Linked DNA regions of Homo sapiens. The protein of the gene in region 1 interacts with the protein of each later gene in a pairwise test. Each region holds a gene or a part of one and is shown in the gene's direction. Other genes may lie near its edges.

Evidence for each region.
Region 2: the proteins of TMEM86A (region 1) and SLC30A2 interact in binary tests that used the Homo sapiens proteins (3 or more experiments, as listed by UniProt).
Region 3: the proteins of TMEM86A (region 1) and GJB5 interact in binary tests that used the Homo sapiens proteins (3 or more experiments, as listed by UniProt).
Region 4: the proteins of TMEM86A (region 1) and TMPRSS2 interact in binary tests that used the Homo sapiens proteins (3 or more experiments, as listed by UniProt).

What each region holds. Positions count from the first base shown.
Region 1 is NC_000011.10:18,693,805-18,701,778, forward strand, and holds the start of TMEM86A (lysoplasmalogenase TMEM86A), read left to right. Parts: upstream 1-4,974; 5' UTR 4,975-5,082; coding exon 5,083-5,103; intron 5,104-7,128; coding exon 7,129-7,393; intron 7,394-7,768; coding exon 7,769-7,974. UniProt on the Homo sapiens protein: Catalyzes the hydrolysis of the vinyl ether bond of choline or ethanolamine lysoplasmalogens, forming fatty aldehyde and glycerophosphocholine or glycerophosphoethanolamine, respectively and is specific for the sn-2-deacylated (lyso) form of plasmalogen.
Region 2 is NC_000001.11:26,036,729-26,043,118, reverse strand, and holds the end of SLC30A2 (proton-coupled zinc antiporter SLC30A2), read left to right. Parts: intron 1-410; coding exon 411-570; intron 571-1,313; coding exon 1,314-1,419; intron 1,420-3,207; coding exon 3,208-3,342; intron 3,343-3,813; coding exon 3,814-3,959; 3' UTR 3,960-5,867; downstream 5,868-6,390.
Region 3 is NC_000001.11:34,750,635-34,758,068, forward strand, and holds the start of GJB5 (gap junction beta-5 protein), read left to right. Parts: upstream 1-4,412; 5' UTR 4,413-4,561; intron 4,562-6,672; 5' UTR 6,673-6,696; coding exon 6,697-7,434. UniProt on the Homo sapiens protein: One gap junction consists of a cluster of closely packed pairs of transmembrane channels, the connexons, through which materials of low MW diffuse from one cell to a neighboring cell.
Region 4 is NC_000021.9:41,477,148-41,484,170, reverse strand, and holds part of TMPRSS2 (transmembrane protease serine 2), read left to right. Parts: intron 1-3,568; coding exon 3,569-3,695; intron 3,696-4,888; coding exon 4,889-4,999; intron 5,000-7,023. UniProt on the Homo sapiens protein: Plasma membrane-anchored serine protease that cleaves at arginine residues. Participates in proteolytic cascades of relevance for the normal physiologic function of the prostate.

The sequences.
Region 1 (7,974 bases):
GCTCCTCTCTGGTTCATCACATCCATAGACTTTCAGTATGGTTGAGACTTCCAAATCTTCCCTGTGAGCCTGAGCCCTAGTTTTGTATCCAGTTCCACCCAAACATTCTCCACTAGGCTGACACACACATTCAGCTCACTCCTTACAACTCAACAACTGACGCCCTCACACTGTTATCAGAACATCTGACCTTGTCACACCCTCCTTAACATCTCTGATTTCTTCGACATATCTGCAGGTGGGGTGGGGGTGGAATCGGGTATGTGTGGTGACCCTGAGAGTTGGTTAAAAGTGCTCTGGAGGCTGGGTGCAGTGGCTCACACCTGTAATCCCAGCACTTTGGGAGGCCGAAGCGGGCGGATCATGAGATCAGGAGATCGAGACCATCCTGGCTAACATGGTGAAACCCCATCTCTACTAAAAATACAAAAAGTTAGCTGGATGTGGTGGTGGGCGCCTGTAGTCTCAGCTACTCGGGAGGCTGAGGCAGCAGAATGGCGTGAACTGGAGAGGCGGGGCTTGCAGTGAGCTGAGATTGCGTCACTGCACTCTAGCTTGGGCGACAGAGCGAGACTCTGTCTCAAAAAAAAAAAAAAAAAAAAGTGCTCTGGAGGCCTGAAACAGAAAAGAAATTAGCTGAGATCCAGCATCAGGTTGGGAATAAGATAATCAGTTTAGGGCTGGATTATGATTTCAAGCAGGACAAACTAAGTGAGGAAAAATATCCTGTGGCAAAACAACAGAGGTCAGAGATGAAGGAGGCCACTGGGTGAGAAGAAGCCCCATGGGGGAAGCGAGGCAAGCTCAGAATGATGATGGGTCATCATTTCTGTGCATTGCCCATGTCGCTGGTGGATGACAGCGGGCACAATTAGAGATGCTAAGGAACAGAGGACAATTGGTTTAGTGTCATCTACTATGTCAAGTCTAAACTTCTTAGTAGAACCTTCATTTTTATTTTTATTTATCTATTTATTTTGAGACAGAGTCTTGCTCTTGTTGCCCAGGCTGGAGTGCAGTGGCACAATCTCGGTTCACTGCGACCTCTGCCTCTTGGGTTCAAGCGATTCTCCAAGTAGCTGGGATTGAAGGTGCCCACCACCACACCCAGCTAATTTTTTTTATTTTTAGTAGAGACGGGGTTTCATCATGTTGGCCAGGCTGGTCTTGAACTCCTGACCTCAGGTGATCTGCCCACCTTGGCCTCTGAAAGTGCTGGGATTACAGGCATGAGCCACCGCGCCTGGCTGAGTAGAATCTTCAAGATCTGAGTTGGCTCATGCTTCTTCAGTTTCACCTTCTCACTCCCCAGCTCGAATCAGTACTACAGATATTTCCCTGAATTCAGTGTGTCTCTTGTGCTCTTATGTACACATGCAATTCCCTCTGCCTAGAATGGCATATACATTGGTGTCTGCTCAATAAAGACTAACTCGTTCTTCTAGATTTAACTCTAGCTCCTGCAATTGCTCCAGGTGTAATTTATAATTCTGATGTCTTTTTTTAATGCCACCTGTGACACCTTCATACTTCATTAGGTCAGCTACCACATTGAATAATTGTTTACTTGCCTGTCTGAAATGAACTGTGAGCTCCATAAGGATAGAGAATATATTTTACTCAATATTTTACACCCCAGAACCTAATACAGTGGTTAGCACATATTAGGTGCACTGTAAACATTTGTTGGATGAATGAGTGAGTGAATGGGCTCACAAGCACAGGGAAAATTACAAAGCTGTGTGAAAAGGGCCATGCCAATAGGTTGGAAAGGAAGAAATGCCAGTTCCTACCAAAAGGGAGAAATGCCCATTTTCAGGAAGCCTTATCCCACTTTCTGCCTCCTGCAATATGCAATTCAAAATAAAAACACTAGTAAATAGTAAACACTAGTAAATAGTAAATGAAAATTTACTTTTGAAACAACAAATCTCAACCATATGAATGAAGTCAGAATAAGCTCTTTCTCTTTGGGAAGAGGGTGGTGCCCTTGCTTTGTGGGTGCCTATATCAGCCAGGGTACTGGCACACTCAATAATTTAACTGAAGAGAATTTAATGACTATTTGCAGAGACGAAACTAGCCATGGGTGAGGAGGCACCTAAAGACTAGCAATAGCACTGGGCACAGTAGCTCATGCCTGTAATCCCAGCACTTTGGGAGGCCGAGGCGGGTGGATCACCTGAGGTCAGGAGTTCGAGAGCAGCCTGACCAACATGGTAAAACCCCATCTCTACTAAAAATACAAAATTAGCCGGGCGTGGTGGCACATACCTGTAATCCCAGCTACCAGGGAAGCTGAGGCAGGAGAATCGCTTGAACCCAGGAGGCAGAGGTTGCAGTGAGCATAGATCACACCACTGCATGGCAGCCTGGGGGACAGAGCAAGACCCTGTCTCAAAAAAAAAAAAAAAAAAAAAAGACTAGCAACAGCAGGAAACTGTTGCCACCCCTGGCCTGAAGGTATGGGGAGGGAGCCTGGGGCTGTAGCCATGGAGAAGCAGGCCACAGCCAGAATCTCAGCCTGGTCCATCAGGCCTCGTCCATGTTCTCATCTCCTGCCTCTGAATTTCATTGGCTGAACTCAGCCAGAAGCCAGGGCCCTGGTGATCCCTGAAGATACAGTCCATAGAGCTCAGGCTCCCAGGACAGGGTAGAGAAGAGCCAAGAATGAATCTAGGTGGTGGGAAGGCAAATGGAGAAAAACCGGCATTGAGGGGGGATGCCTCTGCTTTGTAGGCGACTTGTGTATATGATTAGTTTGCCTACTGGGTAATCAAGCACTGAGTGGAACCCTGTAGATGGGAGTTCTAAGTCTCATGTTTTGTATTGTTAGGTATTTGTATGTGCAAGCTTCTTAGAACTGGTGCCACTAATTAGTAGGTCTTGGGTGGGGCAACGGCATCTATGTTTTTAAAAGCTTTCCAAGTAATTTTGATAGGTACCACTTGTTGAGAACCACGGATATAGTCCACCTTCTCATTTTTATAGAGAGGCAAACTAAGGTCTAGAGAAATGAAAAATGCCCTGACTTGGCAAATTTCTGTTTGAGAACTATCCCTCAGGTGATGTTAGAGGGTTTGGCTGGAAAACTGGAATATTTGCACCTTCTACTAGCCCATTTCCTCCATTTTATTCATGAGAAATCTGAAGCTCCAAAGATGGAATGATGTGCTCAATTATACACCACAGTAGTGAGTCATGGAGAAGGAAGCACTAGGACTAAGAATGGCATTTCTAACTCTCAAGCCAGTGTTCTCTCTAGGCAGCACACTTGGTAGAAATGTGTGTGTGTGTGTGTGTGAGTGACAAAGCCCTGGGGCAGCAGTTATAGTCCTTCATTCTGGTAAGGTGCTCTCCCCAAAGCCCCTAACTGGAAAGAAAGAGGAGTAGGCAGAGGTCATTGACCCTTAGAACTCTATGCTGGAGGGGACTGGAGGGGATGGGGGGAAGATCTGGGTGACTCCTGTCCCAAGCCTTGACTCTCACTCTTGTTGTACTGGACTCTGAATCTCTGGTTGCCAATTCTGTCACCAGAAGAGGACTATCACCCCTCTGAATGGGTGTTGGGACTTTAGGGAAAACTGGGTAGGATCCAGAAGGAAAAGGAAGAGACCCATTGTGGGAGGGGCTTACAGGAGACTTCAGCCTGTCGGTCTCTGCCCAAACAGCACAAGGCTCAGGACCAGCACAAGGGCCTGTGTCACCATGCCAGGATGTTTGAAACTCCTTTTTGGCTGCTAATTAGGGCTGGTCACCCCTTTCCCATCAATTCCCAAAGCCTGACACACAGCTACTGCCCTTCTACAGTAGCTTACAGACTACTTGCCCATCCTTTGAGATACAGCTGAAATCTCCATCTCCAGGATTGCTAGACTTAAATTTCCTAAAACCAGCAGCCCTTCCTCTTCCCCAACCTACACATGTCAGAGTTGGGTGGAACCTTAGAACTCACCCGCTCATCTTCTAAGTGAGGAAATCAAGACCAGAGAGGGGAAGTGATTCACCCAATCTAACAGCATGGAAGTGGCAAAACTGGGACTAGATTTCAGTCCATCTGGCCACCTACCTCTCCATGTAATTCCAATGATTCTGAACATGCACCGCTCTGAATGAGCTTGTGTTCCTTTAGTCTACGTAAAATCAACATTAAATCCACTTGGGACGTATTTTTGGCAAAGTTAGCTCACGCTTCTTTGGGTCTGCCTGTCTGTCATTCTTGGGGTGCTCTTGTATGTGTGGCAGTGGTCTCTGAGTTGTAAGAGGTGTGTGCCTACGGCCAATTATCTGTGTTTGTTTCTATATTAGGGTCATGGGTCTACGAGCTGCTGTAGAGTCCCTGTATATGTCTCTTTTCTTACATGGAGCATATATGTCAATTTGTGGTTGTTGGTTTTGGATCTGTGTACTTGTTGAGTGCTTAAGGGTAATTATGATTCTGTATGTGTGATGTATATGCTACGATTATGGGTCCATGGCTGCTGCATACCTATATACGTGCCGCTTTTCAAGTCGAAGGTTGTGTGTTTGCTGATGATTTGGATGTGTGTTTGTACACAGTGAAGGTTGTGAGTCCAATTGCAATCGTATCGGCGTGGACTGCATGTTTAAAGGCTTAAGGGAATCTGTCTTTGCCTTTTGCTCCCGGGTTATGAGAAAATGTATGTGGCTGTGCGTCCAGGACAGCAATGTGTTTGTCTCTCAGCCAAGCTCAGTCCTCACCCAGGCACCGGGGTCACGGTCACGTTCACGTTCCGTGGACGCCTTGGCACGGCCTCCCAAGGGGGCGGGGCCTGGGGGGTATCCGCCTTCTGACCCCTGGGAGATGCCTCCTTTCTCCGAGCAGCAGCCGGGGGCCTGGCCGGCGCCGCCAGCCGGGCCCCGCCCCCCCGGCTCCCGCCCGCTCATTGGCCCTGGCAGCGGTGACGTCACGGGGCTAGCTGACAGAACCCCGGCGCCGGGCGCTCGGGAGGTATTGTCCGTCCCTCCGGGCTTTGTAGAATCGTCGCCGGCTTACCTGGCCGTGGGCGCGTCCTGGCCGCTGCAGCCCGGAGCAGGGTGCCAGCCGCCGCCGCCGCCGCCATGGTGTCCCCGGTCACTGTGGTGAGTGAGCGAGCGAGCGAGCCAGTGCCCGGCGCGGCTGGAGCCCACCGGCCTGGCCACCGGACTTCGGCAGGCCGAGCTGCCGAAGGGGCCGAGGCGGGGCGGGGGTCCCGTGGCGGCCGGAGTCCCGCGGCGGGAGGCGGGCGCTGTCACCGCCCCCCGCTCCTCAGACTCGCGGCGCCCCTCCTCGCGCGCCCCCAGCCCGCCCGCGGAGGGAGGAAAACACTGGCCACGTGACTCGGAAGCGTGACTTTGTTGATCTCCATGTATTTGGCGCGGGTCGGCGGGGTCGCGGCCCGGGAGAGGGAGGGGACCGCTGCCGGCCGCAGAGTTCCGCGTAGGCGGACCACAGGGAGGCGTGGGGGCGGGGGATGCTGGGAGGATAACAGGGACCTCCTGGGAATGCCGTCCCAAGTTTGTTTCCTAACCTTCCTCATTTTGTAAACAAGTTGGCGGACGCCCCTGAGTCTAAGAAGCGCTGATAACGCGCTGGGGGAAAAGGGGGCATTCTCTATGACATCCCCTGCTTTTCAGACTTTCTCAACTTGAACCTTTTGTTTCGTCTCCCCATCCTCCTTATTCTACTACTGGGTTCCCTATAACTGTCAGGGTCTCTCCAGCTACTGCCAGTATCTCCTTCTAGAAAATATGGGGCTGGGAGAGGCCATGGAGCGGAGGTTAATGCTCCCAGGGGCTGGCAGGTGGTTGCTGGGCATTGTGGGCCTGGGCATCCCCTCCAGCCGCCTCCTCTGACCATGCCCCTACCCTGACCAGCCTTAATTTCCATGGGAAGTGGAAGTCATCTCTTCTCACTGCTCTTACCTCTGGCAGAACAAGGAAAGGCTTGGACCCTGGAACCACCCATCCGCCTCTTCCCAATCCTCCTCATCACAGTCTGATCAGTCCTTAGGTACCTGGTCGTCTGGACTCTGAGTGTTTCCCAAGTCCTGTGCTGGGCAGCTCACCTAGCCAGAGACACAATCGCTTTGGGCAGAGTGTGGGTGTACAGGGAACTCCAGCTGCTCCATATCACCCTCAATGGATCTGTTAGCAGCCCAAGGAAAGGAGTTTCAAGGATCACAGATTCAGAACATCGCTGCAGCCCCCTCCCCCAGCTTGGACTCTGCCTGCAGTGGCCTTGGGTACAACCTTTCTTTAGCTGCCCTCTGCTAATCCGGCTGAGACCAAGTCAGCTGCTCTAACTTCCCCCTCTCAGTTCCCCATCTCCCAGCCTGTCTGCTGGCTCCAGATCAGAAGCTGGGAATAGAACCTCTCCCCCCTTTCCTGCCTCTTTCTGGTGTGGCTTGAGTTGCTCTTGTTCTCTGGGAAATGAGGCTGACTGACACACACCCTCCCTTCCCCCAATCCTTGAAATCTTTGGTGTTTGAAGGACAATTTTCTTGCTCCCAACTCATGGGTCCATTTATCTAGCCAGCATCCCTAGCATAGCCCTCCTTGCCCTTGATGCCACCTTCAGGCTGGGGCAGGTGGAGTGGAGGCTGAGGAACAGACTGGTTGAGGAGGAGAGAGGCTGTGGTGGCTGAGGTGATTGCCATTGCCTGCTTTCCCACATTCCTGGCACACACCTGGTGTTGCCAGGGCCCTAAGGCTGCACCCTGGCCCCATGCTGAGGATCACGAGTTGGCCAGTCAGGGTGTCTCTGTGGTTTCCCACTGACTTCACTCCATTCCAGAGTGAACAGCTGGGGGCTGTTGCTGGCAGAGAGGAGGGGCTAAAGGGGCCCTGAGGAGGGAGAAGGAGGGGGCAGGAAGGGAGAAGCACACTAGGCTGCAGAAGGGTGCCCCTCCTAATATACTGAGCCTCAGGGCAGTAATGGGTTTGGCCACAACCTGCTGGCTGGTAGAGGCAGGCCAGGCTGGGTTTCTCTGTGTCAGTCTTCTCAGGTTGGGGGTGGAAGTGAGGTGGGGGTATGGATGGGAGTGTCTCTGGGGTGGATGCCTAGGCTGAGGGTGCTGGCTTTCAACCCCCAAGTTCTGAGTGCTGCCCTTGTCCTGTGTCCTCCAGGTGAAGAGTGAAGGACCCAAACTGGTGCCGTTCTTCAAGGCCACCTGCGTGTATTTTGTGCTCTGGCTGCCCTCATCTAGCCCATCGTGGGTCAGCACCCTCATCAAGTGCCTGCCTATCTTCTGCCTCTGGCTCTTCCTTCTGGCCCATGGCCTGGGATTCCTGCTGGCCCACCCCAGCGCCACCCGCATCTTTGTGGGGCTTGTCTTCTCTGCTGTAGGTGACGCCTTCCTCATCTGGCAGGACCAAGGATACTTCGTGCATGGTCAGTGGCCATAGTAGTTGCCTGGGAGGAGTCCTGGGGCTGGGGGATAGAGGGTCCTGGGCTGTGGGCAAAGATTTGGAAGAGGGAGTTCTTGAACCAGAGTGTGGGGAGCCTGAGGGTTTCTGAGGCCAGGGACTGTGAGGGTCCTTGTTAGGGGATGACCTCGCAGGGGAACTAGTGATCAGTTCCAGAGTCCTTCAGGGGACTGGGGTGGTGGTCTTTAACTTTAGATCTTCCTACCCCTGTTATCCCAAAGCAAAGCTGCTGGGTTATCCCAAACACTCCACTCCATCGCCACATCCATCCCTACCCCCACCCTGTTACTCATTCTTCATCAAGCTTGCCCTCAGCTGCCTTTGCCCCTCTTACCCCCAGGTCTGCTGATGTTTGCTGTGACCCACATGTTCTACGCCTCGGCCTTTGGCATGCAGCCACTGGCTCTTCGGACAGGTCTGGTGATGGCAGCGCTGTCGGGCCTGTGCTATGCCCTCCTCTACCCATGCCTCTCAGGTGCCTTCACCTACCTGGTGGGGGTCTATGTGGCCCTTATCGGCTTCATGGGCTGGCGAGCTATGGCAGGG
Region 2 (6,390 bases), on another chromosome or scaffold:
CGGGAAGAGGCCAGTTGTTGCAGGAGTAGCTGTCCCTAGGGGCAGAACCCAAGTCTGAAATTGGTCTCAGTTAGAGACAATGGGTGTCTCTTTCGGGGTCTTTGTTCAGAGGCCTCAGTTTCCCCATCTGTGACATGATGGAGTGAACTGACAGTGACCTCCCTAATGCCCTCCTGCTCTGAGATTTGACACTGTGGCATTGTTGTGCCCAGGCTCAGCCTGGCATTGGCGCTGGGCCCTATCTCTCATGGCTGTCTGAACCAAGGCCACGTGGGTTGGACTTCTCACATGGCCAAAGAGATCACAAGGTTTAGGGGCTTGAGATTTTTGCCCTACAAGTTGGCTAGTCCTAATAGGTGACCTCCATCTGCGACCTCAGTGAGCCCTTGGCTTTGTCTCCACTTCCATAGAATGGGGTTGACCCTTCACCAGTCTGGCCATGGGCACAGCCACGGCACCACCAACCAGCAGGAGGAGAACCCCAGCGTCCGAGCTGCCTTCATCCATGTGATCGGCGACTTTATGCAGAGCATGGGTGTCCTAGTGGCAGCCTATATTTTATACTTCAAGGTCAGAGCTGGGACACAGGGTGGTGGGGGTGGCAGGGGAGTGTAGACCACCTGAGTATACTCTCTACCGGGGTTTCTTTTCAGATTCTAGCTCCCTCCCAGTTCTAGGGAAAAGGGTGGGGAGAGGAAAGGAACATTTATCCAATACCTACCAAGTGTCAGCACTTCTGATCCTCACAACAACCTGAAGGGTAGGTGGTAGTGTTTTCTGTAGCTCAGAAAGGTTCAGTGACTTGCACAGTGTCACACAGCCGGTAAAGCATAGAGCCAGATTCAAGCCTACGACTGTGTGTTGTCAAACCCTGGGCAATGCCCATCACATAGAGGCAGGGAGCTGTAGTGGAAAGAGGCAGGCATTTGCTCTGAAGCTTGGCTCTCCTCCTTGCTAGCCATGTGACATTGGATGAGTTTGCTTGCTCTAATGGAGCCTCAATTTCCCCATCTGTCAAATGGGGACGGATGGCGGATCAGATGGTATCTAAGATGCCTTTTTGCTCTGTCCATGTCTCAGCTCCTTGAGAAGGAGGGGTGGGAAGGGACTGCCTTATTCTGAACTGTGGTCTGTCCTTTCTGCTCTTGCAGATGTGAAATAAAGAGCAGAAAACTGGGAGGCAGGGCCAGGGCGAGGCTCATGCCCACCCAGCAGAGAGAGCACCTCTCCCCAGCAGTGCTGGGTGGGAGGGGAGAAGGGAAGCTGAGGTGTTAGATGGTGAACTCCAGGTCTGCCTTCCTGTCTTCCTGCAGCCAGAATACAAGTATGTAGACCCCATCTGCACCTTCGTCTTCTCCATCCTGGTCCTGGGGACAACCTTGACCATCCTGAGAGATGTGATCCTGGTGTTGATGGAAGGTAACCTGGGCTTTGTGGCTCCCTTTTTGCTCTTGGCTCTCAAGCGCTAATCAGCTCAAATAGGGTATGTGTGTGTCTGGGGCATCCTAGCACATGGGCGGGGAGCCAGGATCCGGAGCCCCGGCATAGGCTGGAAAACCTCCTGGGGCCCCTGGGCTGATCTTGACATAGAGCCTGGGCTTTCAGGTGTGGCAGTTCCTGGAACCGTCCCCCAGCCCGAGTCTTCCCTTCCCCCTACCCCTAAGGGTGCCTCCTCTGCCTAGTCAGGTGGCTTCTGGGGGACATCTGTAGCATCTGGAGCTCTCCAGCCCTCCCCTATACACTTCCCCAGGCTCTGGCTGCCTTCTCTCAGGAAGAGAGAGGGGGTGAGGATTATGCTTCTCATTGCACAGAGGGGCAGACTGAGGCTCAGAGAAGGACAGTCAGCCTTGGACAAAGCTACTGAATCCACTGCAGCGCAGGCCTTTCCTACATCTCAGGGACCAAACAATGCCACACCCTGTGGGGACATGGCTGTGCTTTGTGGGGTTGGAGAACGGTCAGTGGTGGAGAATGATCTGGTCTGCCCTGAATTACCTTTTTTTTTTCTTTTTTCTTTTTTTTGAAACAGGGTCTTGCTCTGTCATCCAAGCTAGAGTGCAGTGGTGCCACCAAGGCTCACCGCAGCCTTGACCTCCTAGGCTCAAGTAATCCTCCTGCCTCAGCCTCCCAAGTAGCTGGGACCACAGGCGCATGCCACCATGTCTGGCTAACTTTTAAATGTTTGTAGAGATGGGGGGGGGGTCTCACTATGTTGCCCTGGCTGGTCTCGAACTTTTGGGCTCAAGCAATCATCTCACTTCGGCCTCTCAAAGTGCTGGAGTTACAGATGTGAGCCACCACACCTGGCCCTGCACCTTGGCTTTCTTATGCTCTAGGCCTGGGGTCTTGGGCCAGGGTCATAGGCCTCTGCGTGGTCAGGGTCAGTCTGGAATGGAGTAGGATGCTGGCCTGGGCTTAGCAGTATTTGGCTGCAGGTCAGAGCTTTTTCTCCAAGAATATGCTAACCCAGATGAAAGCGATAATGATGAAGATGATGATCGTGCCCTGGGTGGGTCCAAGGATTCTCAGGATCTGTTCTTTCCTTCTTTCCATTCAAAAATATATTTATTGGCCAGGTGCGGTGGCTCACACCTGTAATCCCAGCACTGTGGGAGGCCGAGGCAGGCAGATTACCTGAGGTCAGGAGTTCAAGACCAGCCTGGCTAACACAGTGAAACCCTGTCTCTACCAAAAATACAAAAATTAGCCGGGCGTGGTGGCATGCGCCTGTAGTCCCAGCTACTCAGGAGGCTGAGGCAGGATAATTGCTTGAACCAGGGAGGCAGAGGTTGCAGTGAGCCAAGATCACGCCACTGCACTCCAGCCTGGGTGACAGAGCAAGATTCCGTCTCAAAAAAAACCAAAAAATATATTTATTGAGCACCTACTATGGAGTAGGTGCTGTTTTAGGCACCAAGGATACTGTGGTAATCAAAGGAGACTGTCCTGCCCTCATGGAGTGTCCATTTTAGAGGGAGAAACTGACAATAAGTACATTCATAAATAATTTCAGTGTTAAGAGTGGAGAGGAAATACAACAGAGTGATAGGGCAGAGACCTTGGGAGGTGAAGGCAGCCTCAGACCTGCAGGCCAAAGAGGTCTTCTTTGAGGGGATGACACCTGAGGATCAGGAGCCAGCCCTGCACCAATGGGCAGGCGTGGGAGGGGTAGTTTCCTTTAGTTTCCCCTGTCCTTGCCGTCCTCAGGGACCCCCAAGGGCGTTGACTTCACAGCTGTTCGTGATCTGCTGCTGTCGGTGGAGGGGGTAGAAGCCCTGCACAGCCTGCATATCTGGGCACTGACGGTGGCCCAGCCTGTTCTGTCTGTCCACATCGCCATTGGTGAGTGCTTGGGACACTCAGGGTGGGGTGGGAGACAGGCAGCCAAAGGCCTAGTGCCATCCCCAACGGGTCCAGGTGACCCCAGATGCTCACAGTGCCCATGCATCAAGCCCAGCCTCATGCTGAGTACTTGATACGCATTATTCCATCTGATCAGCACAATCTCATTTATCCATGAAGAAACTGAGGCTGGGGTTGGGTGGTAAAGTTACTTGCCCAGGCTTTTACAGCTAGTATATGGCAGTAGGTGGCAGATTCCTGGCCTTAAGGCCAGTGCTTTACCAGCTCTTTCAGGCATGAGCCAGGTCTGGGCTGGGAGGCTACCTGGCAGAGGAATGGAATCTGGGGGCTTCTCCATGTTCATGGTCCCCCATCCTGTTCTGCTGGGGATGGGGTATGAGATTTGGGCTCCTGATGGTTCCAAAGGGCCAGAGTAAATGGCTTCCCCCGCTGTGTCCTCTCGGCCCCCAGCTCAGAATACAGACGCCCAGGCTGTGCTGAAGACAGCCAGCAGCCGCCTCCAAGGGAAGTTCCACTTCCACACCGTGACCATCCAGATCGAGGACTACTCGGAGGACATGAAGGACTGTCAGGCATGCCAGGGCCCCTCAGACTGACTGCTCAGCCAGGCACCAACTGGGGCATGAACAGGACCTGCAGGTGGCTGGACTGAGTGTCCCCCAGGCCCAGCCAGGACTTTGCCTACCCCAGCTGTGTTGTAAACCAGGTCCCCCTCCTGACCTCTGCCCCACTCCAGGAATGGAGCTCTTCCCAGCCTCCCATCTGACTACAGCCAGGGTGGGGACTCAGCGGGTATAAAGCTAGTGTGACCCTGCTCTTCCAGCTCCTGGGCCAGCTCTGGAAGGGCTGTATTTGGGCCTAATCCTCAGCAAATGTTCTACCACTCGCAGGGGCAAAGGTGGTGAGCCACGGGACGTCCAAGGGGAGGCTGGCCCCAGCGCGCCCATACTGCCTGCCTCATGCCCCATTCTCAGCCTGGCTGGCCTTTGCCTTTATGAATCTGAGCCCCTCCATCTGCCTATAGCAATAGGCACGGGGGTGAGGACCCTCACACTCTCATTTGAGCCTCCCTGAGGCAGGGAGCCAGGAGGCACCTGAGGCCTATCTGTGCCTTAGTCACTTCAGCTATGAGCCAAATGTTCCCTTTCCTGGAGGGGAGAGGCTTCTTACTAGGTAAGAGACAGGTTTCCTCTTTCCTTATTTCCTCAGCTGTGCCAACACAAAAAACAACTTTGGCACAGGTGGTGGGCAGGGGGTAGAGAGATTTCAGCTTGGGTTCTGCACTAACAGCCTCCAAGCCCCCTGGCACTTCTGTTGCCCTGAGAGTGTCCCAGGGGATTCAGAGTCTCCAGAAAGATATGGCTGGGCCAACTCTGTTGCCTACCTGGCCTGACCCAGTCGGAGCCTGACATGGTGGAGGGAAAGGGAGACAAGTGGGGCTGCACTCGGTCCAGAGGCCAGCTAGGAGGGAAACCGCAGCTTCCTGGGGCTTGTGTGTGAAGATTCCTGACTTAGGGGTGGCTTTTGTTTACAAGATGCAAGAGGGGAAACCTGTCCCCGACTCATCGAGACAACATGCCCAGTTATCAGGGAGTCCTGTGTCACAAGGTCTGTCTCTGCCATTGTAAGCAAGTGCCTTGGGCGAGCTGGCCTCTGCCCCACAGTCTCATCTGTACACCGACAGGGTTGATGCCTCCCTCACAGGGTTGAGAACAAGAGCCAGTTGGCCAAGTACCTGTGGTTGTTGAAGATTGGTTACTTTTACCATCCTGGGGACAGGGAACTCTGTGGCCCGAGGCTGCCTCACTGAGGAGTCAGGTGGGCTTCCCAGCCTCCCCAGGGGCAGTGCTGAGTTTGTCTTGACTGTTCTGGCCCAAGGTGGGAGGAGGTGGGTTTGGTCACTTGCCTCCCACTTTAAATCTCTGTCTTTCCATCTGTGAAATGACCTCTTTGTGCCTTCCCAGCACTGTCATCCTGATCGCCTGTGTTCTAGGTAGGTGGGTCCTTCAGCCCCTCCAGGTCTGTGAAAAGTCTGTGGAAAGCACTGGCCTGGAGAGGGGTGGGGGGTTGCTGGTGGGTGCTCCATTCCACCACAATCTCAGGGGACTCAACCTCCCCTACCCAACTCCCCACCCCCACCCAAGCCATGGCAGGCCCCAGGAACTTGATCCTGGGCTTTGCCGTATGCCAAGTCCTTACACCCCTCTCAAGAGACAGTCATTGGCTGGGCACGGTGGCTCATGCCTGCAATCCCAGCACCTTGGGAGGCTGAGGCAGGCAGATGACTTGAGGCCAGGAGTTCGAGACCAGCCTGGCCAATATGGCGAAACCTCATTTCTACTAAAAATACAAAAACTAGCCAGGCGTGGTGGCTTGTGCCTGTAATCCCAGCTACTCGGGAGGCTGAGGCAGGAGAATCGCTTGAACCGGGGAGGCAGAGGTTGCAGTGAGCTGAGATCACACCACTGCACTCCAGCCTGGGTGACAGAGCGAGACTCCAGCTTAAAAAAAAAAAAAAAAAAAAAAAAAGGAGACCATCACTGCTGTCCTGCATTCTTACAGATGAAAAAACAGGCTCAGAGGTTGAATCGTTTTCCTGAAGTCAGACAGCCAGTGCAGGCAGGTCTGGGATTTCTGCCTCATTTCGGTAGACCTTCCTCTACAGCAGGGTCTGGGGGCCTGTCGGTCTGCGCTGCCTGTTGGTACAATACAAACCCCTGGGACCAGCAGTGCCCGGCCCATGGGTGAGGACATGCCAAGGCAGTTCAGTGTCCTGGGTGTCACAGCTGTGATTGGAAAGGTGCCTCTTTCACCTGGCTGGGCCTGGCATCCAGCGCCCTCCCCACCCTGGGAAGGCTGCCTGGGCCCCAGCTGTATGCTTTCCCACCCACCCTCAGTTCTTGACTCCGGGCCGGACTGCCTCTCCCCCACCTCTTTAATTTCCAGTCCGCCCTGTACCTCAAGCATCTCACAGCACCACGCCTCCCAAGGGTAACCCACTCTGCCACTCAGCTGTGACTGGCTCTA
Region 3 (7,434 bases), on another chromosome or scaffold:
AAAGGAGTATGCCAAGAGGATCTGGGGCAGATACTGATAGCACCTGCTACGTGTACTGACCACTTGATGGAACCAGATTTAAAATGCAGAGCTGTCTGGTTACTTTCAGTAAGTCCTGTGGTGCCCACACTGGACCATGACTCAGCAGAGATTCTGAGCATCCAGGCAAGAGCCCAACAGGAAGGTCCTTGGCCTTGGAACTCTTGTTAGCAAGGGGAAATGTGGCAGCCAGTGGCCAAAGCTTCAAGAACTGCTCATGAGCCCTCAATCCTCTAAAAGAGAGGCCCCAAATGGAACTGAGACAACCCGCCCAGAGACGGCAAAACACTGTGTTATTGAGACCAATGATTCAGCTTTAGTGTGGGCCGGGCTGGAGGGACGAGGATACCTAGAAGCATTGGGCCCCAGTCTCAGGAATGGTGAGCCTCTCCATGACCCAGCTCATGCAGAGCCTCAGAAATCGTAGGGAGAGACCAAGGGGCACATCCCAGTTTCAGCCTCCTCGGACTGAGCTTGGAAGCATGGGTAGAGCTGGTGGAGTAGGTCTAGAGGCCTAGGAAAGGAGGCACATCATAGGGGAAGAGCATGACCATTCGTCCCAGAGGAAAAGCAAATGTCCACCCAACAGGTCAGAGAGCAACAGCCCACAGAGTGGAAGAAAATGAATGTGTGAGACATGCCAGCTGTAAATCACCATGTTTATATACATCCTCTCAAGCACTCCTCACAACAGCACCACCCGACCCCTTCCACATTCGAAAGAAAGGAAACTAAGGCTCAGAGAGAAAAAATGAGTTGACCAAGGCCACATAGTTAGGGAGCAGAAATGGGGTTTGAGCCCAGGTCTGTGTGGATTCTGCCCATCACACAACTCTTTCCCTGTTTTCCAGGTTTGCCTGTTCTCTGTCATGCCCACCTTCCACCCTTCCCACCTCCAGCTCCCTCCTGGATTTCCAGCATCCCCTGAGTCCCATCCCTCAGTAAAAGAACAGCCATGAAGCCTCCATTGAAACCTCTCACTTGATAATAAGCCCACTTTCATGATAACAAACCCACTCCCATGATAACGATGTTAATCCAACTAACCTAATTACCTCTTAAAGTCCCACCTCCCAACACTGTTGCATTGGGGGTTAAGTTTCAATACATGAGAGCATTGGGGGACACATTCCAAGCATAGCAGGGGGAGTGAGTGGGAAAAGTGGTGCATAGGTTCATCACAGATGTGTTTGGAGTTAATGAGTTCAGTGCTACGTGTGCTGAGTAAGAGCCACATGAACTATCCAGGGTCACGAGGTGGCAGCAATAGTTGGAGTCCTCAGCCCCAAGCTGGTGGTAGGAGCCACAGCCTGTGGAGAGTGCACTGAGAGAAGAGAATCCAGGAGAGCTCTGGAGAGTGCTGGCATTTTAGGAAGCAGGCAGAGGGTTACTGGCAGAGGAGAAAGCTCCAGGCCTCAATTTAAATCTTACACTTTCAGAAAGGCTTTCCCTGCTTCCTGAAACTAGGTCTGGTTCTCCATTATACATTTTCTTGGCACTGTGCTTCTCCTTTGTGACTCTATCACAATTGCATTTTTAGAGTTATTGGTGTGTGTGTGTGTGTGTGTGTGTGTGTGTGTGTGTGTGTGTTTAATGTCTTATTTCCTCCTTTGACTGTAATCTTCAAGAGGACCAGGCCCAGAGGTTGAACCATGAGAACCATGCTTACTGATTTATTTCCACTATCAGGCGCAACACGTGGCACATAGTAGGTGCTTAATGAATATTTGACGATGAGTAAATGATTCTGTTTATCAAGCATAAAGGAGCCGACAGTGTTGCCAAATCCTTGGGTATGAAGATGTTGAAGCATTACGGTGTTAAAAGCACTGGCTCTGGAGCTCAGCTACCTGAATTCCACCCCCAGCTCTCCTGATTACTGATTGTGCAAGCCCAGGCAAGTTTCTTAGCCTCTCTGGGCCTCAGTTTTCCCATCTGGAACATGGAGCCATTGGAGTTCCTACCTCATAGGGTTATTTCTATCAGTGGCCCAATCACCTATCAAATCACCAAAACCAGTGACCTATGAACCATCCTAGGTCAGCCTCCTGCCTCACATCCTACATCCAGTCAGTCCCCCAAGTCAGTCCCCCAAAGCTGCCAGCTGTATTTACCAGCTATTTCCCAAATCCAACCCTCTTGCTCATTTCTTGCCTAAATCATTGCAGTAACTTTCATACCGGTCTCACAAGCCCCTCCAGCCTCTTTTCTCAAACAGAGGAAGCTTTCTAAACATACAGTTGATCTTCATTATTCACAGATTCCGTATTGTGCATTCTCCAGCTCACCACAATTTATTCCTAAGCCAAAATCTACACTTAAGACACTTTCATGGCCATTTATAACATGCACAGAGTGGCAAAAATTTGAGTCTCCCAATGCACGTGTTCCCAGCTGTGGCTGAACAAGGTGACATTCTGCCTTCCCCTTTCAGCTCTAATGCTATAAACATGTTCTATTGGAGGTCTACTTGGTGCCATGTTTTTCTCATTTCTTGCTTTTTGCTGGGGATTTGCTGTTTGAAATGGCCCCGAGTACAGTGCTGAAGTGCCATCTAGTGTTTCTAAGCACACGAAGGCTACGATGAGCCTTATGGAAAAAATATGTGTGTTAGACAAGCTTCATTCAGTCATGAGTTATAGTGGTGTTGGCTATGAGTCCAATATTAATGAGTCAACAATATATATTAAACAAGGTGTCTTCAGAAACACACATAAAACAGACTTCTGTATTGATCAGTTGATAACCACATTGTAAACAGAAGCTTGCAGGAACCTAACCTCATATGTCCTCTAGGAAGAATGCTTCAATATTCACTAACTTGGTGCTCATGGTGACTCATAGACTATAACTACCTTGAATAATGAGAATCAAATGTACCAATCTGACCATGTCTCTTCCTTTTTCCTGCCTCAGCACAATACAAAATGTAAAAATAGAAAAAAGAAAAGAATTCCCTCATGCCTCCCTCTGCACCCAAGATAAATTCAAACTCCTTAGCATGACATTCCAGGTCCTTCATGGTCTGGAAGGTCTTTGCTGACCTTCCAGGCTCCTTGCCATGTGGTGTCCCCACCACTACCCAGCCCACTCTCCAATGCTCTTCCATTATTTTTCACAAAGGTCCTCTGCACGCTATGTGCCCACTGCCTCAAAGGCCCCTCCTCAGCATCTCTTCTTGGTAAACTCCTATACATCCTTCAAGACCCAGCTTAAATGTTACCTTCTCCGGCTCTCCCTCTGGCAGAACTTAAAACTCCCTTCTCTCTCTGTGTCTTTTCTAGGACTTCTCACAATGTTGTAACTGATCTCTTTATATGCCTCCTCTCTCCTGTACTTGGCAACAGCTTTTTGGAAAGAGCATGGAGTATAGAAATGTGTGACTCTCTGCAGGGTGTGTGCATTTCACACATCATTCATTCAATAAATATAAATTGAAGCCTAACTGGACAAGACACCAGGCACCATACTAGGCACAAGGGATAGAGCAGTGAATAAAATAAAGCCACTGCTGCATGTGTGTGCAACACTGTGCCCATAATTGTGGCCTGTGTGTAAGAGTATGCTCATGTGAAGCTACATTGTGTTTGCTTGTGGACATGAGGTGTTTGTGGCTCCTGGATGCTTTGTCTGTTGAATCCTGACCCCAAGTGACCTGCTGATACAGGGCACCTTGGAAGTCAATTAGGCCAAAAGACCGTGTCTGTGCACTAATGAGAAGCTTTCCCCAGGTGCCCCTGCCCACCTTCTCCACCTCTCCTGTGGTTCCTGCCTGGCTTGGGTTTGGCCTTTTTAACCCAAAGACAACATGCATCCAAATGAGATTTTCTCTAGTGCATACGTCTCTCTCTCCCTCCCTTCTCCTCTGCCTTCCCTGTATCTCAGAAAGAAAAGGCCTAGGAATAAGGAAAAGGAGGAGGAAGAAACATTTTTTTGAGGACATACCATGCGGCAGGCCTGTGCTGGGCAGTATACACGCATTATAGGCAATTGTAGACAGGGCTTCCCTTGTGTCAGGCACTGTTCTAAGCACTTCACCCCTAAGGCTGGGTTAATCCACGTATCCACCCTATGAGGTAGGTGTTGTTCTTTTCCCACTTTCACAGAGAAGGCAAGAAATCACACAGTGAGAAAGTGGCAGAGCTGGGATTCAGGCCTCAGCTTCTCCCACACAAGCCCACAGATGGGAGGATGAACAAGGAGTCAGAGTGGACCTGTGGCTCTCCCCTGAGAGGATACCAGGATTCGAGGCTCAGCGCCCTGGGAGGAGTGAACCCCTCAGTTTCCTGAGCCTCATCAGAAGCAGTCTGGGGAGGCTGGGGCCCAGCCAATGGCAGTGCAGGTCCCAGCTCCTCCTCCTCCCAGGCTGGGCCAGCACACCCGGCAGGCTCTGTCCTGGAAACAGGCTTCAACGGGCTTCCCCGAAAACCTTCCCCGCTTCTGGATATGAAATTCAAGCTGCTTGCTGAGTCCTATTGCCGGCTGCTGGGAGCCAGGAGAGCCCTGAGGAGTAGTCACTCAGGTAAGGGCATCTGTGTCCGCATGTGCCCTGCCCCTTGGCATACGTGGCAGGAGGACACTTCTCTGCTGGGGAGTGGTGGGATGTGGCCTGGACACATCTGCCACCCTGGGTCCTGATGGTGGAGGAATAAGGGGCTCTGGGTTCTTTCAGGTCTCCCCAGCCGGGCAAAGGTAGGAGCAGGGGCCAGGCCGGAAGCTCAGCAGGCAGGGTAGCTCTGCCTGGGCCTGCAAAGCCCTGCCCCACTCCTCCCCAAGTAGGGATGGGCTGGGTGAGAGCCCCTGGGGCTAAGGGCGGGGCCTTCCTGGGTGTTCCCTGAGAAGCTGCAGGAGTCCTACCTTAGACAGGACTGAGCATGCAAGATGGTGATTCAAAACAGAGCTCCCCCCAACCCCGGCCCCCACCTCCACCCATCCCCCGTCCAAGTGGCGCAGGTGGTGTGGAGACAGGGTGGTGGGCAAAGGTTCCCCCAGCCACCCTCATCCAGGATCCACACACAAGGGGAAGGACAGAATCCGTCTGCACACAAACAGGCAGGCAGCTCATTGAAACTTGAGGAAAGGGTCTGAGGCCTAAGGCTGGGCAGTTCCCGGAGGGTGGGCTCTAGAGCCAGCCTGCCTGGGTTCAAATCCTAGCTCTGCCACTTATTAGCTGTGTGACGTTGAGCAAGTTAATTAATCCCTCTGTGTTCCTCTTTCCTCATCTGTAAATTGGGAATAAAAAATATGCCCTTTCCTAAGGTTGCTGTGAAGGAATAATGTACTGATTCATACAAAGAACTTAGAGCGGTGCCTGGCACGGCATGAATGCTTCATGGATATTGGCTGTTATCACTACTCTGCTTTGCAGTTGATCATGCAGAGGCTCCAGAGAGCCTGGTGAGCTTCAGCCTGGACCAGCATGGGAAGGCCATCATGAGCCCTTTAGTGGCTAGGCAGACAGGTTCCTTGGGGTCCCAGGGTGCACAGTTGGTTGAAACCACAGTGCATGGGTCTTAATGGACACACCCCCATCTCCAGGAATCAGGCAGAGGACTCGCGGGTGAGGAAGTGGGGACCCCTTACTCTGCCTAGCAGTCACAGTCCTTACGCGGAGGTGAATCTGATTCTGTGAGTTCATCAGGCCAAATTCACCAGCAGAACTGACAGGAGCAGCATTTCCCACTTGATGTCTTGACAAGGCTGTTCCACAAGATGATAAATGTTATGTCAGGAGGAAAAGGGCTTCTGTGGGCAAATGAGTTTGGGCAATGCCACATATTTCATACCTCTTTTGGTGAATTTATTAGTGAGTTTATTAGCACGGTTGAGCAAAAGAACCCTATTTAACTTTACTAAACCCAATGTTTGCCAACTTTTCTTGACACAGAATCCTCTTCTCTCACTTCTCCTATTGCCAACCTATGGGACAGGGTTCCAGGGAACACTGTTTGGGAAACACTGGAATACCAGGTTACTCTAGGAAACCTACTGTATGAAGAGAATTTATTGCTGCCTGCTTTAGCTTTCAGCTGGATTGCATTGAGTGGCACTTGAGCAGGACTCTGCCTGGCTAATTACAGAGTGTTAGACCAGATGGGGGCTTGGGGACAAGGTTCCAGCCTCCTTTCCAGTCCCATCCCTGAGCCAAGAAAAGGACAAAGAGCAGGTTCCCCTGGGGAAGGGGCTGTCTGAGAAGAGGCAGCAGTGCTCAGAAAGGAGAGAACCATCTCAAGGCTCAGCCCCCCTGAGGAGGAGGGCCAGGGTTGAAACAGAGGGAGCAGGCAGAATGTCCCAGCTCCACCAGTCTTCACTCTGCAGAACCTCAAGACCAGAGCCTCAGGCCCGGGGAGGAATGAGTGGCTCCCTGGACCTGCCCTTATCCACTGGTATTGGTAAGAGCTGGGTTCTGGACTTAATTACCTATGCTCAAATCCCAGCCCTGCACCTAATAGTTGTGTAACCTTGTATATAATGCCACTAAACCTCAGCTCCCTCCCTCTACAAAATGGGGACAGTAGTAGAACCCAGCTCCTCTAGTGATGGTAAGGATGAAATGTGATGACATATTTCTACAAAGTGCTCAGAGCAAGTCTGTGATAAATGTAGGAAATGATTGTTCTTGTTTCCCTGCAGTAGCAGCTGACGCGTGGGTCCACCATGAACTGGAGTATCTTTGAGGGACTCCTGAGTGGGGTCAACAAGTACTCCACAGCCTTTGGGCGCATCTGGCTGTCTCTGGTCTTCATCTTCCGCGTGCTGGTGTACCTGGTGACGGCCGAGCGTGTGTGGAGTGATGACCACAAGGACTTCGACTGCAATACTCGCCAGCCCGGCTGCTCCAACGTCTGCTTTGATGAGTTCTTCCCTGTGTCCCATGTGCGCCTCTGGGCCCTGCAGCTTATCCTGGTGACATGCCCCTCACTGCTCGTGGTCATGCACGTGGCCTACCGGGAGGTTCAGGAGAAGAGGCACCGAGAAGCCCATGGGGAGAACAGTGGGCGCCTCTACCTGAACCCCGGCAAGAAGCGGGGTGGGCTCTGGTGGACATATGTCTGCAGCCTAGTGTTCAAGGCGAGCGTGGACATCGCCTTTCTCTATGTGTTCCACTCATTCTACCCCAAATATATCCTCCCTCCTGTGGTCAAGTGCCACGCAGATCCATGTCCCAATATAGTGGACTGCTTCATCTCCAAGCCCTCAGAGAAGAACATTTTCACCCTCTTCATGGTGGCCACAGCTGCCATCTGCATCCTGCTCAACCTCGTGGAGCTCATCTACCTGGTGAGCAAGAGATGCCACGAGTGCCTGGCAGCAAGGAAAGCTCAAGCCATGTGCACAGGTCATCACCCCCACGGTACCACCTCTTCCTGCAAACAAGACGACCTCCTTTCGGGT
Region 4 (7,023 bases), on another chromosome or scaffold:
GATATCCAGTCATCACGCTGTACACATTAAACATGTACAATTGGGTTTTTTTGAGACAAGGTCTCCTTCTGTCACCCAGTCTGGAGTGCAGTGGCTCAGTCATGGCTCATTGCAGCCTCGACCTCCTGGGCTCAATCCATCCTTCCCCCTCAGCCTCCTGAAAAGCTGGGGCCACAGGCATGTACCATCATGCCAGGCTAATGCATATATATTTATATTTTTTGGTGGAGATGGGGTTGGTCTCGAACTCTGGGCTCAAGTGATCCTCCCGCCTTGCCCTTCCAAAGTGCTGAGATTACAGGCATGAACCACAGCACCAGGCCTACATGTAAAATTTTTATTTGTCAACTATACTTTGACAAAGCTGAGAAAAAAAATCCTAATATTTAAAAAAAAAAAAAAAAGGACTAGCTTGAGACCTTTTCCAGCTCTCTGGCTTATCAGCTGCCGTCTCTTCCGGGTGCAGATAGCTGGAAGGGAAAGAAAATCCCTAAAATTACCCACAAGCCAAGAATGAAGTGTCTCCCTTTGAGCCACAGTGGCAGTTTTGTTTTTAATCATAGAAGTGTATTTTGAGCCGGGTGTGCTGGCTCACGCCTGTAATCCCCGCACTTTGGGAGGCCGAGGTGGGGGGCGGAGGGGGTGGGGATCGCCTGAGGTCAGGAGTTCGAGACCAGCCTGACCAACATGGAGAAACCCCGTCTCTACTAAAAATACAAAATTAGCCGGCGTGGTGGTGCATGCCTGTAATCCCAGCTACTCATGAGGCTGAGTCAGGAGAATCTCTTGAACCCAGGAGGTGGAGGTTGCGGTGAGCTGAGATCATGCCATTGCACTCCAGCCTGGGAACAAGAAAAAAAAAGAAGAAGAAGAAGAAGTGTATTCATTTCAGTTACTTTTAAAAAAGTGAACAGACTTTATATTTTAGAGCGGTTTTAGGTTTACAGAAAATGAAACAGACAGGGCAGCGAGCTCCTTGTACTCCTCCCCAGCACACAGTTGCCCTGTTATGAACATCCCACATCAGTGCTGTGCGTTCATTAACACCGATGAACCTGATGCATACATTATGATGAACTGAAGTCCTGGACTTCACCCTTTCTCTTGTACAGTTCTGTGGGATTTGACAAATGCATAATGCTGTACAGCCACAATGATAGTATCGTCCAGAGTAGTTCTCCTGCCTTAAAACCTCTTTTGCTGCACCTGTTTCTCTCTCCCCACTCACCCCAGCTATCTGATCTTCTTAGTGCCTCCGAAGTTTTGGTCTTTTCAGGATGTTGTAGCGTTGGAATCATGGAGTATGTAGCCTTCACCACATACACCTTCCTTCACTTTGTTGGCTTCCTTTACTTAGTAATATGCATTCAAGTTTCCTCCATGCCTTTTCATGGCTTGATAGCTCATTTCTTTTTAGCACCAAATAATATTCCGTTGTCCAGATGTAGCACAATGTTTATCCATTCATGTAACCTGTGACCGACTCACAGATAGGATGTGGAATCACTCACCACAGAGGCATTAGACAATAATCAGACCCAAGTCATTTCATGGGGGAACAAGCCCACAGGTACCAGACTGTCCAGTGAGTCAGGGCCACTCGTAGGAAGTAAGAAGAGAGGCTAGAGCATAGCCAGGTCCTCACTTTATACTTTAAGCCCATGTGTATTTCTCCCAAACCACACAGCATTGTTTCCATGCTTTCAGCTTTGCATGAATAACGTGATACTTGAACGCATCATTTATCACTTGCTCTCTTTCCCACAGCGCTGTTTTCAAGCTTCTTCCTGTTCATGATGCTCTGCTTAACCCTTAAGCTGCATGGGATTCTGTTCTGTGAATACGCCCACCCCATGTATTATCCTGCCCAGCAAAAAGTCCCCAAAACTCTGGATGGTGGTTACCTCTAGGGAGGGAGAGAAGAGATTGGGAATAGGGAGCGACTTCAACGGTGTTTGTAATGTTTTGTTTCTTTAAATAAAAGAGCTGAGATCATTTCAGCAGAATGTTGATTTAGAGTCTCCTGGACAATTTGTTGCTCAAAGTGCTCTCTTAAAGAGCACTTTAAAAAAAAAAACCTTTTATCTTATTATTTATTTATTTATTTATTGAGACGGAGTTTTGCTCTGTCACCCAGGCTGGAGTGGAGTGGTGTGATCTCAGCTCACTGCAACCTTTACCTCCTGGGTTCAAGCAATTCCCCTGCCTCAGCCTCCCAAGTAGGTGGGATTACAGATGCGTGCCACCACACTTGGCTAATTTTTGCATTTTAGTAGAGATCGGTTTCTCCATGTTGGCCAGGCTGATCTCAAACGCCTGACCTCAGGTGATCTGCCCGCCTTGGCCTCCCAAAGTGCTGGTATTACAGGCGTGAGCTACCATGCCTGGCTTATCTTATATATTTTTAAAAACAGCTTATTGAGATCTAATTTATGTACCATAAAATTCAAGTATATAATTCAGTGCTTTTATATATAAAACATATATATGAAATAGCTTATTGAGATATAATTTTTTATATAAAACAGCTTATTGATATGTAATGTATGTACCATAAAATTTAAATATATAATTCACTGGCTTTTATATATTCACGAATATGTGCAACTATCACCACAGTCAATTTTAGCATATTTTCATCAGCTCATAAAGAAACCCCAAGCCCTTGAACTATCACCCCATATCCCTCCTCCCAGCCCGTCCCTCCTACTCATAAGCAACCACTAATCTACTTAGTGTCTATAGATTTCCTACTCTAGGCATTCCATGTGAGCGGGATCATGCAATACGTGGGCTCACACAATATAAGTGGCATTCCATGTGAGTCGGCTCATGCAGTATGTCCGGCTCCTTTCACTGAGCATAAGGTCTTCAGCACTCATCCAGGTTGCAGCCTGTGTCTGAATTTCATTCCCTCTTCTGGCTGAATCGTATTCCATTGTGTATCTTGGACATATCCTATTCTGCTCACCCAGCCGTTGGTGGGCGTTTGGAGTGTTTTCGCCTTTCAGCTGTTTTAAGAGGGTTGCAGTGAACATTTGTACAAGTTTTGGACCCAATGCCTGTTTTCAATTCTCTTGTGTAGAGAGCACTTTTTAGCAGAAAAAGAATAGATTTGTGGCCTCCCTTTGTGTGCGGTCAGTGCCTTGAGAAGAGTGAACTGTGCTGCCACCTCCGGAGCCGTGGAGAGCGCGGGGCTTGGGTAGCAGCTAGGACGATACAAGTTGGGACAAGGCCAGGTGCAATGGCTCACGCCTGTAATTCCAACACTTTGGGAGACCGAGGCAGGGGGATCACCTGAGGTCAGGAGTTCAAGACCAGCCTGGCCAACATGGTGAAACCCCATCTCTAATAAAACAGAAAAATTAACTGGACGGGGTGGTGGACGCCTGTAATCCCAGCTACTCGGGAGGCTGAGGCAGGAGAATCACTTGAACCTGGGAGGCGGAGGCTGCAGTGAGTGGAGATCAGACCACTGCACTTCAGCCTAGGTGACAGAGCGAGACTCCGTCTCAAAAAAAAGAAAAAAAAAGAAAGAAACTCATGGATAATCCTCCCTCTCGTGCAGTTCGCCTCTACGGACCAAACTTCATCCTTCAGGTGTACTCATCTCAGAGGAAGTCCTGGCACCCTGTGTGCCAAGACGACTGGAACGAGAACTACGGGCGGGCGGCCTGCAGGGACATGGGCTATAAGTGAGTATGGGGCAGCACCCGCCGAGTGACAGTAACAGACAGCAGAAACACGAGAAGACCCTCTCTCTGCCTCCCTGTGAAAGCACCGGCACATGAGTGCTGGGGACAATTGTCACCTTCCAAAAGCTGAGCCCTATAACCAGCAGGTGGAATTTGTCCTGCTAGGGCTGTGCCCAGCACACAGACCTTGGCTCACTGCCACCTTGCCCTGCCTCCTCCTTGGCCTCTATAGACTCCTGGTTGCTCGGGAGTGCCCAGTGCTGTGGTCATCTGGTCAGAGGGGTAGGCTGAGGGCGTTAGGTGCCTCTTTTTCCAAGGTGCCTCTCAGCCAGGGTCCATTCACCTCCCTGGGTAGAGGTTGGACCAGAACAGCTGGCGAGGAGGGTTGGGCTGGGGAGAGCAGCAGAGACAAATCCTGTGCCAGTTTCACTTCATTCGGGAGCCATGGAAGCCTTTTGAGCTGGGGAGAGAATCAATCAATCAGACTGATACTTAAAAAATGTCATTCCTGCTCGTAGCTCTGAGGGAAGGTGGGAAGGCTTAACAGGGTGTGTGTCGCCTGACAGTGATTCCTAACGGGGGTGGGGCGGTGGTTACCATTTACCAGCACTGCCTGGGGAGATGCGGCAGCCCTCAGGCATCGGGGGAGAGGGTGGTAGGATGCTACTGCCACTTTGTTTTCCATGGGAGGGTCCCCAGGTGATTTCTATGCAACTTTAGGGTATTCAATATGCCAGTTTTCAGAATGAATTACCACTCGGTGAGAAAGTTGGCATCTTAGCTAGTCACTGTGACATCCCTAAACAGCAGGGGTGAATTACACAGCAAAGCCCCCCCATCACAGTCCAGGAACCTGGTGGAATTGATAACTGGGGCCATGTTAACATCTGTACCTTTTATTAGATTAAATGTGTGTATGATTATACAATCCTATGTCCTTCTCATAGTTTCTTGATCCTAACCTGGATAAGAAACACGACCAATGAAGGAATTTTGTCTGACACTTTAGGGTTATTGAATCGAAAAATCGTTACAATATTCTAGCACTTGGTTAGAACGTGTGATTTTTTTTCCTAAATGCTAAGGTTTTTCCCTCTTATTCTGAATGTCGTATGAGCGGTATTATGACATAGTATAGGATTTGTGTTTGCTTATGCCTTAACCATTATCACAAATAAGGTTTTCTTTTTTAGGAATAATTTTTACTCTAGCCAAGGAATAGTGGATGACAGCGGATCCACCAGCTTTATGAAACTGAACACAAGTGCCGGCAATGTCGATATCTATAAAAAACTGTACCACAGGTATGCAGCAATTTCTTCTTGAAAAATTTTGGAATGAAATCAACTAGGAGACACCATGGGGAATCGTTGTCCTGAGTCTGATTTCTCTGAGCTGCAATACTCGGTCTGGATGGGTTTTGCATTGGGAGGAGATTAGAGTCTGACCAGGCCTGGTTACTCTAAGCAGCCCTTGGTTTATTCATAGGAAGTGGCTGAGGTTTCTCTGCTATTTCATTTTCAGCCTCTACCGTCTGCCCTTGTTGGTAGCGGCTCACACTTGCAACATCGACATTCAACTCTATTTAGTTTTCTTTCCTCTTCAGACATTTAGAGGTGTACCTATTTTGTCAGGGCGTGGTTCTAGGAATCCAAGATAATGTCTCAGTGTCCCAGCCAGGGTGACCGGCTCATTCCAGTTTGCCAGGGACTTCACTGGCTTGAGCAAGGGAAGTCCTGCTCCATTCCAGGCAGCTGGGCTGGCTGGTCCCGTTAGCCCCAACCCCGGGACAGCAGTGCCAGAGGGTGCTCTGTGAGGGATGGGCAGCATTCTGGCGGCCTGGGAATGAGTTGTGGTGTTTCCAGGGGGTAGAAGTGGGTACAAGCCACAGGTCACATGATGAGTGGCTGACCTGGCTGGGAGGGCAGAAGAGGGGATGGACTTAGGCTCTTCCTTTTGCTTTGCACATATTTAGGATGTTTGCAGACTTGCTATGATTGTTGCTGTTATGTGTTTTCTGATGTGAAAGATACACAGTGTCCTTTGCCCATGAGCTCTCCTTGCCTCCCAGGTCCCCAGGGCTTATGCCTGGTGTCTAGGCATCACCTCCCTGCCTGCCAGGTGCCAGGTGCTGCATTTCGGGGGAGGATGAACTAATCACCCCGCGCCACCTTTCCTCTGAGTGGGAGCCTGGGGCAGGTTTGCATTCCTGGAGGCCGCTGGTGGAGGGGTCTGGGGGCCTGACTTCCACTGCAGCCTGCTGTCCTGGGGAATGTGGCAGGGCAAGCCCAGTGGGGAGGGCTGTGCACGGCCAGGTGCACCCATCAAAACAGCAGGGCTGCGGTTTGTCCCTGTGGAGAAGCTAAACACAGCTGCCTGGGCACTTTGTAAATGCTGAGTGGTTCTTTGTCTTTCTGGGTTACACACGGAATCAGGGAGCCAAGTCCAGCCGGGCAGGGACGGGGGGAGGGGAGGAGGTGCTGCCGTCCCTTGGCAAGAGCCTTGGGAACTCACAAGGAGGCTGGAGGGCTTGGAAGAAAGAAGAGAAGGCCATTGTCTGGTAGGCTCTATTCTATCTCGGTGGTGGTGGTGGGGGGAGGCGCACTTCTTTTCCTCTTTCTGTGCAGCAGTTGCCCTTTGATGCCTGAGTTCTTGGCTTGTTTTCTGTCGGGCTTCTGTGAATAACCACATGTGCCCTGGCGCTGTGACCACACAGGGCTATCCCTACCGACCTTAGGATTCTTAGGAAATGTCTTCTCTTAAAGGGGACATGTCTTCACTTGGCCGTGTCAGTGCCCCAGAGCCAGAGTCCACCTGGAATGCACCTGTAGTCACTGAGAACCCGGGGGGTGTGCCTTAGTAAGAAGGTGTCAGGAAGGACCTATTATTGTAGGGCCTGGGCTCCTGCAAGGTGGTTTGGGGGTGGTTGGAGGAAGCAGAGATTTGCTCTGGATTGGATGCTGTCAGGAAGCAGGGGTAATTCTGTGAGGCTGCTTTATTATTTTTTTTCTAGGAGGAGGTTGGAATGAGGCTAGGCTAAAGCTGTGATTGGTAAAGAAACGTCCGTCGCTCAAGTTAGCCAGGACAGGAGGAGACATCAGATCGTGATTTTGTGGTTGTGAGCACAAGGTTCCTGTTCTGTCTGTTCAGACATCATTTCGGAGGAGGCTCCTTGTGTCTTGCCCCATCTCAGGCATGGAGGGGCCTAGTCCGATATTGACGCTCAGTGAAATAATTCAGGTTCCGCAGAGCACACGGCCCAGCTATCAGGGCGGGCCAGCTCTGCATGCCAGGGGCCGCGTCTTCCCTTCTCAGCATAGCCTGGGAA